Homo sapiens: one gene and its partners. The protein of the gene in region 1 purifies or fractionates together with the protein of each later gene. This does not show direct contact. Each region holds a gene or a part of one and is shown in the gene's direction. Other genes may lie near its edges.

Region 1 (5,267 bases):
GTCAACCCTAAGTTTGTGGCCCTGATCTGTGAGGCCAGCGGGGGAGGGGCCTTCCTGGTGCTGCCCCTGGGCAAGGTGAGCCCCTGGGGCCCTGGGGGGAGCAGCTCCTCCACCGGACCCATGGCTCTGTGCAGGTCCTGATTAGGTGACGGTCACCAGGCCTTCCAGGGCCTGTGTTGCCATCTGGAAAACTGAGCTGGGCCCCATGAGCCTTACACTTCCTCCAGCTCCTCTGTGCTGTGGCTGTGTGGAAACTGACGCTCAGAAGGAGCCAACACAAGATGGGTCACACCAGTGACCAGGACTACAGACAGTCCTGCAGACCCATGATCAGCCCTCCTGAGCCTCAGCCTGGGGCTTTCTCCCCATGGAAACACAGAGGGGGTTGGGATGGGGTCTGGGGGCCCTGGCAGCGTTCTCAGGGTTGGGAGGGACTCTGGCTCTGGGCCTGTCTGAGGACCTAGCAACTCTGTCCCCCAGCTCGCAGGCAGGGATGATGCAAGAGGTGCTCTCCCCCACCCGCAGCCCTGCCCTCCCCTGGAGCCTGCTGCCCCCTCCGCTGGCTGGCTGCTGCCCCGCACCCCCAGCACACTCCTGTGCTCTTTGGGGGGTAAGACAGGAAGGGGAGATGGGCCCCAAGTTGTTACCTTAAAAGGGCTGATGGAAGCAAAGAGAAGAGGAAGTGGTTGTCGGGGTGAGAGCTGGGCCCGCGCCCCACATGGCTGTCACACAGGAAGCCCTGCTGAAGCAGCTGTCCCCGGAAGAAGCCATTTCCAAACCTCTGCTCCTGCCTGGGGCCAGTTGGGACAGGCTCCCTGGCCCCTCTCCTTTTGGGAGGACCCACCCCTGCAGCCCCACCACTCACACTCGCTCTCTGGGGAGCTGCCTCCACCCCCCCAGCCCCCATACACCTGTCCTGGCTCCAGGGCCAGTTGTGCCCATGGAAGCCTCACTCGGGGAAGCTGGGGTGGGGGTGCCAACCCTAAGGGCAGAGACAGACTGAGACAGAGACCGGCGGGAACTCTGCCAGGGTCTTGCACGGCCCCCAACCTCTGCCATGCGTGGCCAGCCCTCCTGGGGTTTGCCCAGGCCATTTTGGGACTGGAACAAGAGAAGAACAACCCGCCCCCGTCCCCACCCCAGGCCCTGGTCCAGCTCCCAGGGACACCACAGCTTTCCTCTCTGGGCCTCTCTGAAGGAGGTGTGGGGAGGTTGGATTGGGTTTGGGAGGCAAAAGCACCTCCAAGGCCCTGCTGTGCCTTTAGACTGGACGTGTGGACAAGAATGCGCCCACGGTCTGTGGCCACACAGCCCCTGTGCTAGACATCGCCTGGTGCCCGCACAATGACAACGTCATTGCCAGTGGCTCCGAGGACTGCACAGTCATGGTGAGTGGTGGTGGGGACCCAGGGGCTGGGAGAGGGGCTCTAGGATGGGATCTGACATTTGGAGTCCTGAAGACTCACTGGCCCCTCCTCTGCAGGTGTGGGAGATCCCAGATGGGGGCCTGATGCTGCCCCTGCGGGAGCCCGTCGTCACCCTGGAGGGCCACACCAAGCGTGTGGGCATTGTGGCCTGGCACACCACAGCCCAGAACGTGCTGCTCAGTGCAGGTGCTGCGGGAGGAGGGGCTTGGGGGTGGCTCGTGGCCTGCAGTGGATGAGGGCAGGAGGCTCATGGCTTCTGACACTGTGGGGAACGTGCAGGTTGTGACAACGTGATCATGGTGTGGGACGTGGGCACTGGGGCGGCCATGCTGACACTGGGCCCAGAGGTGCACCCAGACACGATCTACAGTGTGGACTGGAGCCGAGATGGAGGCCTCATTTGTACCTCCTGCCGTGACAAGCGCGTGCGCATCATCGAGCCCCGCAAAGGCACTGTCGTAGCTGTGAGTCGCCATCTACCCTGACCTTTGACCCTACAGCCTTTATCCTTCTTATCCACCATCAGCCAGGCCCTTGGATGCTGCCCTCCCTCGCCTCCACCTGGGACTGGCCCCGTAGGGTATGTACGGGTGCCTGACCTACCACCTCCCTTTCCTTGCAGGAGAAGGACCGTCCCCACGAGGGGACCCGGCCCGTGCGTGCAGTGTTCGTGTCGGAGGGGAAGATCCTGACCACGGGCTTCAGCCGCATGAGTGAGCGGCAGGTGGCGCTGTGGGACACAGTGAGTGCTGGGGCAGGAAGCCGAGGGCCCCCAGGCTGGGAACCAAGACTGGAGGTTTCGTCCCTGCTCTGCCACTCACCTGGCAGGATGGCCATGGGCCTCAGTTTACCCAGGCGTGAGATGGTTGTTCCCACTGGTTGGTCGGGAGGGCCCTCACAGGTCACTGCCCAGGGAAGACCACCATCCCAGGGCCTGGGATGTTACCTCTCACCTGTGTCTACAGAAGCACCTGGAGGAGCCGCTGTCCCTGCAGGAGCTGGACACCAGCAGCGGTGTCCTGCTGCCCTTCTTTGACCCTGACACCAACATCGTCTACCTCTGTGGCAAGGTGGCCTCGTCGGGCGGGGTGGGGGTGGGAGGTGGGCAGGATGGGCCTGGAGAGGGCCAGGGCAGTGGGCATCCGCTGGTATTGACCCTCCCTCCACACCTGCCACCTACAGGGTGACAGCTCAATCCGGTACTTTGAGATCACTTCCGAGGCCCCTTTCCTGCACTATCTCTCCATGTTCAGTTCCAAGGAGTCCCAGCGGGGCATGGGCTACATGCCCAAACGTGGCCTGGAGGTGAACAAGTGTGAGATCGCCAGGTGACTGACCCCCGGCCCTGACCGCAGCATGCTCCTTGGGCAGTGGGCAGTCCCAAGCCCACCCAACCAGACTGTGGGCCCCGCTCACCTTCCCCTTCCCACAGGTTCTACAAGCTGCACGAGCGGAGGTGTGAGCCCATTGCCATGACAGTGCCTCGAAAGGTGATGCTCCCCCGCCCCACCCTGGGCTCCAGGCTGGGCACTGACTTTGCGGTCTTGTGGGGGGTGTCCTGGCATAAGCGCTTTCCTCACTATCCCTGGCCTTGCCCACAGTCGGACCTGTTCCAGGAGGACCTGTACCCACCCACCGCAGGGCCCGACCCTGCCCTCACGGCTGAGGAGTGGCTGGGGGGTCGGGATGCTGGGCCCCTCCTCATCTCCCTCAAGGATGGCTACGTACCCCCAAAGAGCCGGGAGCTGAGGGTCAACCGGGGCCTGGACACCGGGCGCAGGAGGGCAGCACCAGAGGCCAGTGGCACTCCCAGCTCGGTGAGAGGGCTGGGAAGCCAGGGAATAAAACTGGGAGGGTGGGGTGGGGCTGGTGTTTGGGGCACCTCAAACTCACAACATTGGGAATCTTTGTGGGTCCGGGAATGGTAATCCTGAGGCCTCAGAACACAGGTTTCAGATTGATAGGCCTGCAGGTCTCCAGGCAGCAACCAGCTGAGCGACTAAAGGGCCCAAGGCCAGGGCTCTAGGGATGGGGCTCAGCAGAGGCTGGGGTAAGGGGAGCCAGGGAGGAGCTGGGCCTAATGCAGCACCGGGTCCCCAGGATGCCGTGTCTCGGCTGGAGGAGGAGATGCGGAAGCTCCAGGCCACGGTGCAGGAGCTCCAGAAGCGCTTGGACAGGCTGGAGGAGACAGTCCAGGCCAAGTAGAGCCCCGCAGGGCCTCCAGCAGGGTCAGCCATTCACACCCATCCACTCACCTCCCATTCCCAGCCACATGGCAGAGAAAAAAATCATAATAAAATGGCTTTATTTTCTGGTACCTCCCAGACTCTGATGACTGGTCCCCTAGACACGCAGTTTGCTGAACCAACCAGCCCTAGAGCTTCCCCTCCACCGCGCTGAGGGGACTGACCCATGGCAGGGGATGTGGGATGCCCCCTGACTTACTACATCACAGGAACAGGGCCTTCGTGGGTAGAAACCAGCCATGCTGATGTGGGCCAGGAGGCTGCTCTCCGTTTCCGAGCTCCTTCTCAGAGCTGACACAGCTGAACTATTTAAGGCCCTAGCTTAGAACCTCAATAATTCCCAAATTTACCAAAAATCTGCCTTTCCTAGTCAACCAAAACATCACGTTGCACGTGACTCTGCTGGCACTGTTGCTTGTGAGGAAATGAACCAACCATCACTTACAGGGTAGGCATCTTTTAAACTGCAGGTCCAAAGATAAAAATAACGAGGGAGGCTGGGCATGGGGACTCACGTCTATAATCCCAGCACTGTGGGAGGCTGAGGCGGCAGGATCATTTGAGCCCAGGAGTTTGAGACCTGCCTGAGCAACACGGCGAGATACCGTCTCTACGAAAAATAAAATAAAAAATTAGCCAGGCATGGTGGTGGGCACCTATAGTTCCAGCTACTCAGGAGGCTGAGGCAGGAGGATCCCTTGAGCCCAGGAGGTCGAGGCTGCAATGAGCCATTGCACCACTGCACTGCAGCCTGGGTGACAGAGCAAGACACTGTCTCTAAAAAATATAAATAGGCCGGGTGTGGCAGCTCACGCCTGTAATCCCAGCACTTTAGGAGGCCGAGGTGGGTGAATCACCTGAGGTCAGAAGTTCGAGACCAGCCTGGCCAACATGGTGAAACCCCATCTCTACTAAAAATACAAAAATTAGCTGGGCATGGTGGCAGGCGCCTGTAATCTCAGCTACTCAGGAGGCTGAGGCAAGAGAATTGCTTGAATCCGGGAGGCAAAGGTTGCAGTGAGCCGAGATCATGCCATTGTACTCCAGCCTGGGGGACAGGAGTGAGACTTCGTCTCAAAAAAAAAAAAAAATATATATATATATATATATATATATTTTTTAAATGTATAAATACATCATATATATTTTAATATATAAATATATTATATATATTATATATTTTAATATATAAATATATTATATATAATATATTTTAATATATAAATATTATATATATTATATTTTAATATATAAATATTATATATATTAATTATATATTTTAATATATAATATATATTATATTATATAATAATAAATTATATATTATATTATATAGTAATAAGTTATATATTATACTATATAATAATATAGTATAATATATAATATATATTATAATATATATTATATTATATTATATTATATTATATATTATAATATAAATTATATATATTTTATATATATGTTTTATATATTATATATTTTAATATATGAAACAGGGGAACTTCTTCTAAGGAAAAGACAGAATTAAGGCAACAGGCTGATCCTAGTTTACCAGAGAAGAAACTGAGGCCGGGAGCAGGAGCCCAGCTCACTG
Region 2 (8,146 bases), on another chromosome or scaffold:
TTTTATTTTTTGGATTATTCATTGCTAGTGTACAGAAAGACAATTGATTTTTGTGTCTTGATTTTGTATCTTGCAACTTTGCTGAACTCATTTGTTTTTTGTTTTTGTTGAAGCATTTCCACAGTTGATGTATTAATTCAAATAGTAAAAACTATTCCTAGTAAAAACTAATCCTAAGTGGATTCCTTAGGATTTTCTTTATATAAGATCATGCCTTGAGCATTTTTAACCCTACTCCCCCGGCTGTTGTAGGAAGAGTGCTGGCCCTGGGGAAGCCCCTTCCTCACCCAGGCTTCACACATTTGACCCTGGCTCTCTCTCAGGAGGACCCCTCGCTGGAAAGGCATTTTAAGGGCCACCGAGATGCAGTTACCTGTGTGGACTTCAGTATCAACACAAAGCAGCTGGGTAAGAAGAGGCACCCTGTCTAGGTGCTAGGTTATGAGCTGAACAGGCCAAGTTTTTACCTCGGAGGGGTGGTGGGTGGGAAGCAGAGCACAAGGACTGCACAGCTTTGTCTAGACCTGCTTCTAGTCTTGCTTCTGCTTGCCAGCTCTTTGGGCACTGGGCTTCATGAGCTTCATTTTACATGCAGAGCCTGAGGGTCAGAGAGGTTAGGGGCCTTGCTAAGGCCACAGAGCTTTTGAGGGTGGGACTGGGATCTGGGTCTTTTCTGCACACCCTAGCCACCTTTTGGGTCTGTCTTTTGGTGTGGGCCCTAAACAGTGACTCCTTTTCCTTGAAGCTTTACTGATTCTGTTGCCCACAGTAATAAGGCACACCTTGTTGAAGAGCCTTGTCAGTGAGAAGGCTGTTGAGCAGAGATGGGCACCCCCCTCGACCCCACTGCTCTTATGCTGCAGCTGACTGTCCCCCTTCCTTGGTTGCATGAGGTTTCGTACACAGCTTTTATGACTGCGCTTTCTGGTTCCTGCAGAGGAGGCTTGCCCCTTCATCCTGTCATCAAGACCCTCTGATGTGTAAAGGTTAAGAGGGAACTGAAGTGATTTTTGATCAGTTTTGGGGACCTCCTTTAGGCTTCATACTGAGTTGGGCCCTCTCAATGGGAGGGGCTGGCTTCCCAGCTGGGGAGGACTTGCTCTCTGGTGCCCTCAGGATGTGTCTGGGGGGAGACCCTGGGCCCCATGGGAATGAGTTTTCCCAGAGCTCTGGATTGCAGTCCAAGGCTAGCATGGGAAGGGCCTCGGTCTTATTCCCATGTGGGTGTGCTCCTTGGAGAACTCTGGGCCACAGGCTCTCCACCTCCAGACCATACCTCGAGATGTGCTCTGCTCCATGGGAGACTTCTCACGGTCTGTTTGTGGATGCCAGGGAAGATGGAGCTGGGCCAGTTGCTCCCCCTGCCTCTCCAATGTCTTGGTGGAGGCTTGAAGCCTGTTAGAGCTGTAGGTCATAGCATCACCCACTGTCCTCAGCCAGTGGCTCCATGGACTCATGCCTCATGGTCTGGCACATGAAGCCGCAGTCACGCGCCTACCGCTTCACTGGCCACAAGGATGCCGTCACCTGTGTGAACTTCTCTCCTTCGGGACACCTGCTTGCTTCCGGCTCCCGAGACAAGACTGTCCGCATCTGGGTACCCAATGTGTGAGTCGTACACTTTGAGGAGGCTTGTTGGAGTCTGGGGCCCTGGTGCCAGAGCCATCCCCACCCAGGTCCCCTAGCTTGGCTCTGGACTGGTCACAGTGGGACTTCTACTCTGCTTTGGAAGAGGTGCCATCAGAGGCTGGGGCTGCAGTTGGAGCCCTCCCCTCAGGGTTGGAAGAGGAGTTCTGGGCTTACCCAATCTATCCCTAAAGAAATGCCACCTGATGCTGTGTTCATGTGGGTGGGGCCTAGAGATGGTGCTCTGTTCATATAGGAGAGGCTCTGGCTTTCCCTTGTGGAGACTGGGGTACTCGGGCTTGACTGACTTTGGGAGGGGTGCTTGAGGAGTAGGAGAGCTTTGATGTGCTTGTGGGCTCTCATGTCACTGTTATGGGTTTCCTTACTCTTGGATGCCTGTCCTTGTAGCAAAGGTGAGTCCACTGTGTTTCGTGCACACACAGCCACAGTGAGGAGTGTCCACTTCTGCAGTGATGGCCAGTCCTTCGTGACAGCCTCTGACGACAAGACAGTCAAAGTGTGGGCAACTCATCGCCAGAAATTCCTGTTCTCCCTGAGCCAGCATATCAACTGGGTCCGCTGTGCCAAGTGAGCATTGTTCTGTCTGGAGACCCTTGGAGGAACCCTGGGGGTTGGGGGCTGGCCCAGGGGCTGCTAGGTACCAACTTATGACCTCGGGCAAGTTACTTAGGCATTGTTTAAGCTTCCTCAGCCTCGGTTTCCTTATCTGTAAAATGGAACAATAATAGCTCCTGCATTGTAAGTTGTCGAGAAGCTTCATGGAGCTGATGCATGACATGTAAGTTAGTCCATAGTCAGCCATGATGACCCTCTGACATCTGTGTTGGCAAAGCACAAACTGGGTCAACAGGGGCCATTTATTATCAAAAACAATTAGGTACTTTCAGTACTACCATTACACATTTTCTTTTTGTTCCTTAAGACAGTTCTGCAAGCTAGGTGCATTTCCATTTTGCAGATGAGGAAATGGGGGCTCAGAACAGTAGTATCTTGTCCCAGAGCACACGGTGGGTCTGTGGCAGAGCTGGAGTTTGAACCCAACTCTCTCTGACAGTAAGGCTTGCCTACTTTCCTCTGGGATGTTCTCAGGGGATGATTTTGCTCCAGAGCTCCCAGATGGGGGCGCAGGCTTCGGAGATGGGGGGCTTAGCCTGGAGGCTAGCCTTCCTGCTGGCCAGGGAGCCAGTGCTGTGCAGACAGCGGGCCAGGTAACCCAAAGGACCTTTCAAGGTCCAAGAATTGCAGACAGATAGTCCTACTTCTAGCTTATTTCATTCCTTTCAACAGAGCTTCCCCATGGGTCAAATATCTTTGCTTCAGAGGAAGGGGTTGGGGTGCCAGGTGACATTAGGAAACCACATGAGTCAGAAGTTGGGGACTATTGAGCTGTGTTCTTCTGGGGACCCCATACAAGTTACTGTTCTCCAGGGCACCCCCATTCCTTTGTCCTGGGAGACCCCTGATGGCTCTTAGAGGCTTTATGACTAGGGTCCTGAGATCAGGAGGGGCCAGGCCAGCAAACTGGGGTGTCAAGTCCATACTGGGCCTTTGGTGGCAGTCCCCAGGACCTCATGCCTTTTGTTGGCAGATTGTGTCTTGCTGACCCGCACTTGAGTCAAATGTAGACTCGGAGGACCTGGTCCCAGAGTAATGACACTGATGGTGAGCTTTTGGCCACCTTTATGCAAATGTTGCCGGCAGGCAGTCGGCTGCATGTTGCCATGTGCTGTGCGTCAGGGGCAGTGCTGGGGCTTTATGTGCATGAGGCTGCTCTGTGCTCACTCGTGAGGCAGGCACCTTTTTTTTTTTCTTTTCTTTTTGTTTATTTATGTTTGGTTTTCCTCTAAGTCAGGAAGAATTTCTCTTTTTCCCTTTTGGTCAGAGTTTGCTGTTGGGATGGGAGAGGGGCTATTTGCTCATGAAGCTACGTAAGAAAACGAAAACAAGAGCAACAGGAAAGATCAATAAGTTTCACAGATTCAGGAAGAAAAAAATAAAGGAAACATTTTTATAACATTTAAAATTAAGTCATAGGCCGAGCTTGAAGGTGCATGTCTGTAATCCTAGCACTTTGGGTGGATGAGGTGGGAGGATCCTTTGACTCCAGGAGTTAGAGGACCAGCCTGGGCAACATAGTGAGACTCCCATCTCTACAATAAAATAAAATAAAATAAAATTAGCTGGGTGTGGTGGTGCACGCCTGTAGTCCCAGCTGCTCAGGAGGCTTAGGTGGGAGGATCTCTTGAGCCCAGGAGGTAGAGGCTGCAGTGAGCTGAGATCACACCACTGCACTCCAGCCTGGGTGACAGAGCAATACCCTGTCTAAAAAACAAAACAAAAACAAAAACAAAATTTAGTCACAGTTTCCTGAAAAACTCTTCAGAAGGAAAAAAGAAAAATGATGTGCTAAAAGTTAACTATTTTCAGAAACAAAGTATAATTTAAGATATGACCAAATAAACAGAAGTAACATTGCCTCCTAGGATGCAATGCATTTGTTCCTGAAAAGACAAATTAGGGTATTCAAATTAAAAAAAAAAAAATCACAGCAGGGCATGTGACCCCGGGTGGTTCCTGCAGGCAGATAGTAGGCACTCGGGGAAGAGTGGCTGTGGAAGAAGGTGTGTGGTGCCCATGTCGTCTGTTAGTCTGTGATGTGACTTGTGCCCCACCCGGTTCAGGTTCTCCCCCGACGGGCGGCTCATCGTGTCTGCCAGTGATGACAAGACTGTTAAGCTGTGGGACAAGAGCAGCCGGGAATGTGTCCACTCGTATTGTGAGCATGGCGGGTGAGTCCCCAGATGCTGTCCTCCACCTGTAGGCGCTCAAGCACAGAGCACAGACCTGGGCATGAGGAGGCCCAGTGGCCTTCAGTGGCTGGAGCCGTGGGACCAGCAGCCTTATCACTGCTGCCCCTTGTCTGGTGCTTTTTGCGAGGTCTGGCAACCTAGCATTGTATCTTTTGCTGTGTGGATGGAAGCTTTGGCCCCATCCCACAAATAGCAGGAGTGCTTAACCTCAAGCCATGCAATTCTTTGGAGCTGTGTAATTATTTGTGCTCCTCTTTTTCTCCTTCACTTTCTGGTTGTCAGGATTACAACATGTCTGTCTGGCAGCAGTTGACACTCAGTCGCCCAAACTACATTTTAAAGCCTCTTGGTATGTTATCCATGATGATGGCTTTACAAAATTCTTGTTGGGTTCTTGTAGCAGATGGTGGCTGTTCATATTGTGCCACATCATCAGGAGAGAGAGGTGCCTACATTTGAGTAGAGACCCCAGCTTCTGCCCTTCTTTGTTGGGCTGGGAGCCACAAGGGCTTCTCCTTGAGAGGTGGACATGGTACCAGCCTGGGTATCACATATGGGTGTGGTGAGGGTCCTTGGCCTGTCTCCTAGAAAGGGGTGGGCCAATGGCCCTGTAGTCCTGCTGGACCTTCCCACCTGTGCCTCAGCTGGCAGGATCTGCCCTGCAGCCACCCCTGGGAAGGGTACCAGCTCCAACTTTGAAAATCCCAGGGGAGCCTGGCTAACTTTTGGGTTTGAAGATAGCTCTCTCAACTTGTATTGAAAATTGGCGGTGGGATGTGCTCCCTGGTCAGTCCACCTTAGTTTGTTGCTGGCCACTGTTCTCACCTTTTACTTCTTCTTGCTCTCCCTTGGCCACCTGGTAAACAAGTGTGACAGAAAGGAGGTGTCTGGGTCAAGGGAACAGCGTGGGCAGGACACAGGGATGGGGAAAGCACCAAATGTTTCTGGGTCCGTCCTGAACCAGGGCAGACCTCCTATAGTGCATAGTGGCCCCTGTCTTTCCAGCTTTGTCACCTATGTGGACTTCCACCCCAGTGGGACGTGCATTGCCGCTGCCGGCATGGACAACACAGTGAAGGTGTGGGACGTGCGGACTCACCGGCTGCTGCAGCATTATCAGTGTGAGTGGTGAACAGCCTCCTGGGCCCAAGGGCAGCCCTGGTGGGACTGTGATGGTGTTGGATGTTGTCCTGTGCTGTAGTGCTTAAATGGGTCTGAGATGGCCTTGGGCAGGAAGGTGTCCTGGGTTTGTTGGGATTCCAGGGGTGGGAGTCTGTGGCATGGCTGGCCTGGCTTGGAACCTTGGCCAGGAGATGGAGCCTGGTGCTACCTGGCTTCCACTGAGCCAGTCAATGCTCACCTCCGAAGTGGCAGAATCTCACACATACTGCAGGGCCAGATGGGGAGTCCTCACTGGGGCTCTGGTCAGGGCTTCCCTTGAGGACCACTTCTCAGGGGCATGCCACTTGCCTTTCCTGGTGATGGAGGCTCTGCCCTCCAGGGCCAAGGTGACAGCCCTTGACCTGTGGTAAAGGGAACAGGGCTGTCAGTAGAGGCCAGCATTGGTGGGACCGTGGCCACCTCTGGTCTTACAGTGTCCTCCGCAGATGTAGAGTCATAGGGAGGGTTGACTTAGCTAGGGGCCAGGCCCAGGATGGTAGCCCTTGGAAGGCAGGGTGGCGGGCAGTGGGCATGGGCTCATGTCAGGCTCCAGGTGGGAGTTGGAGGGCGAGGGCAGACTTAGACATGCCCAGGATGAGTTCGCTGAGAGTACTGGGTAGGGAACTGGCCTGAGAGCAAGTATGAGTGGGCAGGGCCATGAGGCGCCCCAGTTCCAGGGATGGGCTCAGGGAAGGGAGCTGGTGAGGGGTCATTGGAGAAACTGGGAATTGTGTAGCTGGCAAAACAGAGATGAGCAAGACTGGACCAGGGCCGAGACCAGGAAGGAGGCAGAGCTGGAGTTGTTTGAAGAACCGTGGTTGTTAACCTGGGACTAAGCTTAAAGTTCTTGGGCTCGCTTCCTTAAGCCACACCTGAAATGGGAAGGACATGGCTGGACACAGGTGTGGGGTTCCGACCCCACCCACCCCTGACACACACACACCCTTCCTAGCTGACTCCTGGTGTTCAAGTACAGCACTTTCTTTGGGGTAACAGAGGTGAGCACACCTTCCCAGAATGGGGAGAAGATCCTAATCTTGAACAGCACATGGTGGAGAGTGGGCTCTGCAGCTGGCTTTTAAAGCATTCCTGGCTGTGTGATATTGGGCAGGTCATTTGACTCTGTGGGGCCTCTGGGACAATGATGGGGCCTGTCTCACAGGAGGTGTTGGGAGGTTTAATGAGTTGTTTCATATCAAGAATTGAGAGGGTGGCTGGCACAAAATGGGGGGAAGGAGGTACAATGTTAGTGATGATGACAATGACACTGTCTTGGTCCTGTCTGGGCTGGTGAGGCCAACCTGGTTGGTTAAGGCCTGTAGTACCCTACAGCACCACCAGGTGGCAGGGGCCAGCCACAAGAACCTGTTCCCCCACCCCACCCCCCTCCATAGGAAGCCCTGAGGTTTGTTACCAATGCTCTTTCAGACAGAGGCTTCTGGAACAGAAGAGCAGTGGGGCTTGCCTCCACTTGGAGCCCATATCTTTCCTATCCTTCCTTCAGCCTTCTGCTCTGGGCCAGGCCTGAGTGAAGGGCTGGGGCTTGGGGATGGGGCACATCTGCCCAGCTGCCTGGGGAACGTGGGCAGGTGCAGAGGAGGGAGGACTTGGACAGGGAGAGATGGGAGTGGAAGGCGACGAGGCAGGACAGTGGTCAGGAGCACATGCTGTGGTTCCTTTCTGTAAAGGGGGTGGCAATAGGCCTTCCTCATGGCTTTGTGAGGCTCTGATGGGAAAAGCCACAAAAGGGTTATAACACAGGGCTAGGTATGTGGTTTGTGCTACATAAGTCCTGACACTGGGCAGAGAGGATGTCTAGGTGACCCTGGGAGGGTCCAGACCCATCTCTGATGGATCAGGAGCCTGGGCCTGGTGTTCATGGGTATAACAGCAGGTACCCCTTGGGAAGGGCCTTGGATGCCATCTCTGGCTCGGGGTCCCAAAGATGTGGCCTGATTGGCAGTGCTAGGACTAGCCTCGTCATTTAAGGTATGAAGGGAAGAAGGACATCTGAGAGGATAGCGGTGTCCAGAGCCTGCTGGGGTTGGGGGCTGGTGTGCCCCATGTGTCCCAGTGATGGGTAGGTGTCCAGCTGTGCCTGGTATCAAAGTAGGGGCTGGCATCAGAGTGGGGGATGGGTTGCAGAGGTTGAGTAGAAGCAGAGAAGCTGACCCTGTTGGGGTGGAGGGGCCAGCTGGACCCAGGGATCTGGGATGTGAGAATGGCTGAGGTCACATTCTGAGCCCCTATAATTGAGGGGCCACAGAAGATAAAGGTCCACAAAGCAGCCAGAGTGAGAGGTATGAACCCCGTCTCCAAGCATGGGAGAGCTGAGGAGGGCAGAGGCTGGGGAGTGAAGGAGAGTGGGGTCTTGTGAAGAGGGTTGTCAGGAGGTGGAGCAATGCAGAGCAGCCGAGGAGAGCGGTGGGTACTGGGGAGAGGGAGCTGGGGACCTGGAGGGAGCAGGCTTGGCAGAGGGCAGGGGCGGATCTCCATGATGGCAGGGTTGGGGAGGTGTGGATGGACTC
Region 3 (8,146 bases), on another chromosome or scaffold:
GAGCTTCGGTCATTTGTAAGTGTAAACGACCCTTCTTTTTCCTTGTTCTCAAGTTATGAATTTTAATACTGGTAATTTAATAACAAATGCTAGCCATTTAGATGACTCCTCTGTAAATATGAATTTATTTTTAGGTAAAACCTCCTTAAAATAGTTTACATTATAATGTTAATGTCACTTCTGAAAATGTTCAGTATATACTCTTTATTAGTCCAAAGTAATATTTTTTTAAAAAAATCTTGATATATCTGAGAGGTAAATTTTGGGGTGGTTAATTCTTGATCTAAAAAATGATAATTAAAAAAAAATCCTACAAAGCCAAAACACTTCATATTCTGAAAGGGAACTTGTACTTAAGACCATGACAGCAGTTGTACTTTTTCATTTCTGACTTTTCCTGGGCAGGCAGTAAGATATTTTTGGCACAAATGTTATTAATTTTTGACAAGTGAATCACTCTGTCCTTAAACATAGTTGTTTAAATAGTTTTACTGGTTTCTTTTCACTCTAATAAGATCAATAATTTGTTCTGCTGCTATGATGTTATTGCTTTTTAATTTGATACTTTTAACAATAAAAGTCTTTGAGTATTTTTATGTATCAATGGGTTACAAAGACTTGAAATGGATTTGTATGAAGCAGTGTAATTACAGTTATTGTAAATCATTTGAAAGAAAAGTGATACATCCATTCAGCAGTTCTTTGCTTAAAATATTTGACATTTGGAGTATAACTAACAAATAATACCCTGTTTTTTCTTTTGTTTTTCAGGGAAGAACTGCAGATTTTCCTCCTTCAAAATTAAAGTCAGGTTATGGAGAACATGTATGCTATGTTCTTGATTGCTTCGCTGAAGAAGCATTGAAATATATTGGTTTCACCTGGAAAAGGTAAAAATTACCCACCCTGATGATAGTAATTTTATGGGCATAGCATTTGCCTCTGAGGGTACAGAGCTGTTCAATTGAACATAAAAGAATTATTCTTTTTGACTATTCTAAATTGAAAATGCCACAGATAATTAAGAAAAGCCAGTATAGACAAAATTAGAATGTCTCACGTCTTCAAAACTAATTCTGAAGTAATGTGTTACATATTATTATGCCGTTTTCCTGTTCAAATATGTAATTATTAAAGGTTTAACTGTGACTACATATCTTTGTAAATACTGGACTTTTTTTTTAAAGTCTCTTGTACATATGTTCACACACACAAACATAGTATATACACAGAGGGAACTGATAGCTACAGATTTAAGGAAAAATGGAAATTAATACAGTACTTTAAGTGGGATTTTCTCCTTTGCTAGTAGTTACTGGGCAAGAATAATACTGAAGAAACTACCTGACACTCTCCTAGACATTGTTCATTGCTTTTGTGTCCAACCTGACAGTGCTTTATTTCTATTATTATATTATATTTATCCTATGGTATAAAATTGTTCTTTACTATTCTGACATTCTTGCTAGAAATCATGAAATCTTCACAAGTACTCTGTTAGCATAATGCTTGGTGTATCTTAGATGTTTAATAGATATTGAGCATATAGATGAAATAGAACATTTGGAAACTCAATTTATAGAGATTATAATTAGAAAACATAAATTTTATGCTTTGCAGTTTGGGATTACTAATAGGTTAGAATGTAGAAGGCACTATTCAGGTAAAATGCGAGTAAGCAGTGTTTTTTTTTTTTTAATTAGAACTAACTTCGGTAGAAAGATTATATACACACACACACATATATATATATTATTCCCTGTTAATAACATTTTAATGTATATTCAATTATATTCTTTTAGATATAATCTCCCTATTAAGTTTAATAACTTCCTTGAATTAGGTTATCATTGGGATGAGCCATATGAAATTACTCATATTCATCTATTTTTAAACTAAAAAATGGCAATTTCATATGCTTCAATCCAAACATTATTATTTAGTACAATATAAAGAATGGCTACATGGTCCATAATACTTTATTAAATTTCAAGAGAAGATAAGTTATGAGATGTGCTGCTGTATTTAGCATTTTAAAAAACTGCTAAATTAATAGACTAATATATTCTAAATTCACCAGAAGCTATGGTGTAATATCTCAACCACTATTCTATTTTGCACTTCCTTTGTTTCTCAACACATCTTATTCCTGGCCTCTGTATTGTAAGTTGGATAATTTATTTTTTAGTTTTAATTGGCACATAACTGCAAATTTTGGAGTACAATGTGATGTTTCGATACATGTGTACAATATACAATGATCAAGTTAGTGAAATTAACATATTCATCATTTCAAACGTTTATCATTTTATTGTGGCAAGAAAATTCCAAATCTCTATGAGCTATTTTCAAATATATATTATTGTTAATTAATATATAATATTGTGAACTGTAGTCACCCTGCTGTGCATTGAACACTAGAACTTATTCCTCCTAACTGTAACTTTGTACTCACCCACTTTGACCAACTTCTCCCTATTCTCCCTTCCCCCTACCCTTCCCATCCTATGGTAACCACTATTATACTCTCTACTTCTATGATATTTGTCTTTCTGTGCCTGGCTTATTTCACTTGACATAGTGTCCTCCATGCTTATACAGGTTGCTACAAATGACAGAATTGCATTCTCTTTTATGGTTGAATGGTATTCCACTGTGAAAATATACCACATTTTCTATTCAACCTTTGATGGATACTTAGGCAGATTCCGTATCTTGAGTATTGTGAATAGTGCTGCAATAAACATGGGAGTGCAGATATCTCTAACATACCGATTACATTTCTTTTGGATATATCATCAGTAGTGGGATTGTTGGATAATAGAGTAGTGCTATTTTTAGTTTTTTGAGGCACCTCCATAGTGTTCGCTATAGTGTCTGTACTAATAATTTACATACCTACCAATAGTGTTCAAGGGTTACCCCTTCTCCATATCCTCAGCAGCCTTTGTTATTTTGGGGGGCGAGGGGTTGGGTAATAGCCATTCTAACTGGGGTGAGATGATATCGTGGTTTTGATTTGCGTTTCCCTGATGATTAGTGATGTCAAGCATTTTTGCATATATCTGTTGGCCGTTTCTATGTATTTTTTGAGAAATGTCTATTAAGATCTTTTGCTCATTTTAAAAATTAGACTAGTTTTTTTGTTGTTGTTTTGCTATTGAGTTGCTTGAATTTCTTATACATACTGGATGTTAAGTTCTTGTCAGATGGGTAGTTTGCAAATATTTTCTCCCATTCTGTGGGTTGTCTCTTCACTCTTTTGATTGTTTCCTTAAGTTTGATGTAATCGCATTTGTTTATTTTTGCTTTTGTTGCCTGTGCTTTTGAGGTCTTATCCAAAAAATTCTTGCCCAGACCAATGTCATGAAGTGTTTTCTTCCACATTTCCTCTAGTAGTTTCAGTTTCAGATTGTATATTTAAGTCTTTAATCCATTTTGAGTTGGTTTTTATAAGTGGTTAGAGGTAAGGGTCTAGTTTCATTCTTTTGCATGTGGATATCCAGTTTCCCCAGTACTATTTATTTTTCTTTTTTTGTTTTTTAGCACCATTTATTGAAGAGACTGTGACTTGGATAACTTATAAGGACTATGTTTAAATGAGGAATAAAAGGAGGGAGCTGAAAAGTAGTCAACATTAGAGAATATGTCAGCTCTGTAACATGTAAATGAGATAGACGTTACATATAGATGAATTTTTTATATATCTAAATGTCAAAATGAATCCTAGAAGAACATTGCCTTTGAGATATTTTCGAATTCTAATTAATGAAAAATTAGGAAATTTATTATTTAAGATGATTGATTTAGTTCATAGTATTTTGCATATTAGTAAATGTTGATTTTTGTATTTTTTTAACATGATTGAGGCATGGGTTTTCGTTTTTAAGACAGGGTCTCACTCTGTCGCCCAGGCTGGAGTGAACCTCTGCCTGCCGGGCTCAAGCGATCCTCCCACCTCAGCCTCCCGCATAGCTGGGACTACAGGTGCACACCACCACTCCCAGCTAATTTTTTATTTTTTTTGTCAAGACAGGGTTTCACCATGTTGCCCAGGCTGGTCTCAAACTCCTGGTCTCAGACAGTCCACCTGCCTTGGCCTCCCAAAGTGCTGGGATTATAGATGTGAGCCATCACACCCAGCCAGGTACAAGTTTTTAATACAAGTTTTCTCTCTAGCTTTGTTACTGGATTAAAAAAAGGAAAAAAAATATGTTTTCATAAATAAGCCCAAATACATTTAAGTACTTTTAATATAGGAAATGTGTCATTAATCTTGATGAATAAATGATTTTTTTCAAAGTTTAATGTTAGGATCACTAATTAGATTTTGGAAATAAGAAGAAAGCTGGACTCCTTCTTATTACCTATGTTAAAATAAACTTCAGATTGATCAAAGATGTAAATATGAAAAGTAAAACTATAGAAGTATTAAAAGACCAGAGGAGTATAGAGGTTGTGGTATGACAGAAAGCCTCTAATATATGATGTTAAAGCTAGGGTCTGTGCAGGAAAAGGTTACCAACTCTATCTAAGAAGAACTATAACAATCTTGAATAGCCAAGATTATAAGTAATACACTAGGGGAACAATTTTTGAGAGGTTAGGCAAAACATTAATTTTCTTAATATACAAAAAGCCAAAAAGTAAATGGTATAAATAGACATTTCACCTAAAAAGAAGTGCAAATAAGCAATTAAAATATGACAAGATATTCAATCACTTTCATGCTAAAGAAATGCAGTTAAAACAAGAATGAGATTTTTTTTCACTTGGTTGATTGGCTAAAATTAAAGTTTGTATTATATATCATATTGGTGAATATATGGAGATGGAGTTACTCTCCTTCAGTATTGTTTGGAGTCTAAATTAGGGTAACATTTTGGAAGCCAATTTTGGCAGTATATAGCAAAACAATACTGTACAAAGTTGTTTACCCTGCCATTTCACTTGAACAAATTTATTCTAAATGGTATGTGTAATGATAAATGTACAAAGATGATCTTTGCAATATTGTCCAGCAAAATAATTAGAAACCTCTATGTTCAGTCATAGGCTGCCAATTACATTAATTATGGTATTGATTGTTCAATGAAATACAGTGCTTGTATGTAAAAAATAATGAGAAATACATATGTATTTAAATATGGTGTATTAGTGAGAAGCATTAAGTTGGATAACACCATGCATAGTATCATCTCATTTTTTATAAATTTGGAGATAAACACTTTTGCTTTTTACATAGAAAGTTTTAGGAAAAATACATGAAACATTTAACAGTGATTATGGAAGCGGAATGAAAAAGGACAAAACCTGGCATAGAGGACATGATATTTGCATTATGATTTTTTTGTCTTACTAAATATTAAAATTATCACCTCATGTTTAATCTTATTATTTTAGGCCAATATACCCAGTAGAAGAATTAGAAGAAGAAAGCGTTGCAGAAGATGATGCAGAATTAACATTAAATAAAGTGGATGAAGAATTTGTGGTATGTGTGTAGCTGAACTTTCTGTTCATTTTCACCTTTCGGCCACTTCCCATTCTCTTAATTTCCCCCAGACTTCCATTATCTGGAATATATTTTATTTCATTGTTTCTAAAGAAGAAAAGCTTTTAAATACAGTGCTGAGTATCATCATTTAGACCTTTGGTTAAGTTAATGTTTGTATTCTCTAATGATTGAGGTCTGAATTTTAGCAGAGGTTCTTGAACTGTTCAGGGAAATATATACCACTAGTTATATGAGTAAATACTTTATTAACCATTCATGATGTTAAATAGACTGTGACTAATAAAGAATTTAAAACAGAACAAAAGAATTTAGGATTAATAAATTCTGCTTTATACGCATACCATTCATTTCTAAGGAATTCCTTTATTCATCTACAATTAGGATGAGTAGGAATTTTTTAATGCTTTTAAATGATCAACATTATTTAAGTTGTTTGGCAGAATCTACAACTTTTTACATGTTTTACATGCCATCCATAGTGTGCAGCTAAAGATGACAGAGACAAAATAACTTTTTCTCAAGATAATTCTCAGAACTAGAATTAGATTGACCCTGGTATTTTAGGAAGTGTGCTTGTGATTTGAAGCAGAAATGGTTGGGGGAAAAAACAAACTTTATAGTATACAGCTGACCCTTGAGCAATGTGGGGGTTATGGGCATCGGCCCCCACACAGTTGAATATCCACATATAACTCTGGACTCCCAAAAACTTTACTAATAGCCTACTGTTGACTTGAAGCCTTACCAATAACATAAAGAGTTAACACATATTTTGTCTATGTATTATATACTGTATTCTTACACTAAAAGTAAGCTAGAGAAAAGAAAATGTTACTAAGCAAGCCATAAGGGAGAGAAAACATACATACTATTAAGTGGAAGTAGATAATCATAAAAGTATCTTCCCTGTCTTCATATTGAGTAGCCTAAGGAAGAAGAGCAAGAGGAAGGGTTGGTCTTGTTGTCTCAGGGGTGGCAGAAATGAAAGAAAATTTGTATTTAAGTGGACCCATGCAGTTCAAACCCGTGTTGTTCAAGGGTCAACTATATTTTGCTGTCATAAACCAATTAAAATTTTTAGGTGATTTTTAAAATCAATAGATAATTAGTTTAAAATAAGTAAGTAATTGAAGTTTGGCATTGAGGTTAGTATAGTATAGTATTTAAGTTAGTATATGCATAATTTTAATAGCAAATGCTGAAAAATAACTATTAAATAGATTAGATGCTATCTGAATAGAGTATTATATAGCCATTTGTATTAGTCCATTTTGTGTTGCTGTAAAGGAATACTTGAGGCGCTGGGTAAGTTATAAAGAAAAGAAGTTTATTTTGGCTCACAGTTTTGCAGACCATACAAGAAGTGTAGCACCAGCATCTGCTTCTGGTGAGGGCCTCAGGAAGCTTACAATCATGGTAAGACAAAGTGGGAGCAGGCACCTCACATGGCCAGAGAAGAAGCAGAGGAGGGGAGAAGGACCAGAGACAGAGGAGGGGACATATATCCAAACTATATCACCATTGAAAATTGTTGGGTGGGCATGCTGGCTTATACCTGTAATCCCAGCTCTTCGGGAGGCGGTGGGAGGATTGCTTCAGGCCAGGAGTTTGAGACTAACCTGGGCAATAGAGTGAGTCCTCATCTCTACCAAAAGGAAAAAAGAAAAAAATGCCAGGCATGGTGATTGCTTCAGGCCAGGAATTTGAGACCAACCTGGGCATTATAGTGAGTCCTCATCTCTACCAAAAAAGAAAAAAATGCCAGGCATGGTGGTGCATGCCTGTAGTCCTAACTACTCAGGAGGCTGAGGTGGGAAGATCGCTTGAGCCCAAGAGTTTGAAAGTGCAGTAAGCTGTGATCATGCCACTCCACTACAGCCTGGGTGACAGAGCAAGACCCTGTCTCTACAAAAAATGTTTACAAAGTTTACAAAGAAAAATACAAAGTTACTGACATGGGAATGTAACTTATACTATATGCTATAAAATTAACTGAGATGATTCCAAATTTTATGTTGATATAACATTAACTATGTAAAATACGTTAAAAATAAATATATTAGCATTAATTATGGGTAGGAGAATTATGGATGATTGTTTTCTATGCTTTGTATTTTTAAGGTTTTCAACATGTATTTTTAACAGCAATGTAAATAAACATTATTTAATATATGTAAAAAAAGATGACTGTCATTTACAGAAGGAAAAAGACCATTGTAAAACTTATCAGTTTAAAAGATGTTTTTTAATGTGATGGATTTTAAAGGTCAAGACAAAGATATATTCATTCATTCTGCATATACTTATTGAGCACTTGTTATGTAGCAGGCAGTGGCCAAGGCCCTGACTGTGTAGCATGTGCCAAAGCTTTGAAGGCAGAAAGAAACTTAGCATGATCAAGGAACTTAGAGAAAACTACTGGGGCCAGAGCTCCTAAGTGAGGGGGAGGGTGGCATAAGATTAACTGGGAAGATAGACCAAGTTCAGATTGTTTTGGGCATGAAAAGTAGTTTAGGCTTTATTCTTTGTGTAACAGATCTTTCCGTTCAAGCTCAGAAATTAAGTACTCATATATTCCTAGTTGTTCACCTTATTTATTCCCTCATCTTGTCGTCTTAATAACTATTT

What was found. Proteins that work in one complex are often made in the same cells at the same time.
Region 2: the proteins of CORO1A (region 1) and POC1A purify together in Homo sapiens (affinity purification with mass spectrometry; 5 studies listed by BioGRID and IntAct, with this or other methods). This does not show direct contact.
Region 3: the proteins of CORO1A (region 1) and IFT57 purify together in Homo sapiens (affinity purification with mass spectrometry; 5 studies listed by BioGRID and IntAct, with this or other methods). This does not show direct contact.

What each region holds. Positions count from the first base shown.
Region 1 is NC_000016.10:30,185,333-30,190,599, forward strand, and holds the end of CORO1A (coronin-1A), read left to right. Parts: coding exon 1-75; intron 76-1,265; coding exon 1,266-1,388; intron 1,389-1,483; coding exon 1,484-1,613; intron 1,614-1,706; coding exon 1,707-1,891; intron 1,892-2,049; coding exon 2,050-2,169; intron 2,170-2,392; coding exon 2,393-2,497; intron 2,498-2,609; coding exon 2,610-2,755; intron 2,756-2,859; coding exon 2,860-2,917; intron 2,918-3,028; coding exon 3,029-3,244; intron 3,245-3,527; coding exon 3,528-3,632; 3' UTR 3,633-3,744; downstream 3,745-5,267. UniProt on the Homo sapiens protein: May be a crucial component of the cytoskeleton of highly motile cells, functioning both in the invagination of large pieces of plasma membrane, as well as in forming protrusions of the plasma membrane involved in cell locomotion.
Region 2 is NC_000003.12:52,143,278-52,151,423, reverse strand, and holds part of POC1A (POC1 centriolar protein homolog A), read left to right. Parts: intron 1-252; exon of another isoform or gene 253-323; coding exon 324-408; intron 409-1,436; coding exon 1,437-1,608; intron 1,609-2,034; coding exon 2,035-2,214; intron 2,215-4,328; coding exon 4,329-4,436; intron 4,437-5,462; coding exon 5,463-5,578; intron 5,579-8,146.
Region 3 is NC_000003.12:108,211,279-108,219,424, reverse strand, and holds part of IFT57 (intraflagellar transport protein 57 homolog), read left to right. Parts: coding exon 1-15; intron 16-771; coding exon 772-890; intron 891-5,403; coding exon 5,404-5,494; intron 5,495-8,146. UniProt on the Homo sapiens protein: Required for the formation of cilia. Plays an indirect role in sonic hedgehog signaling, cilia being required for all activity of the hedgehog pathway.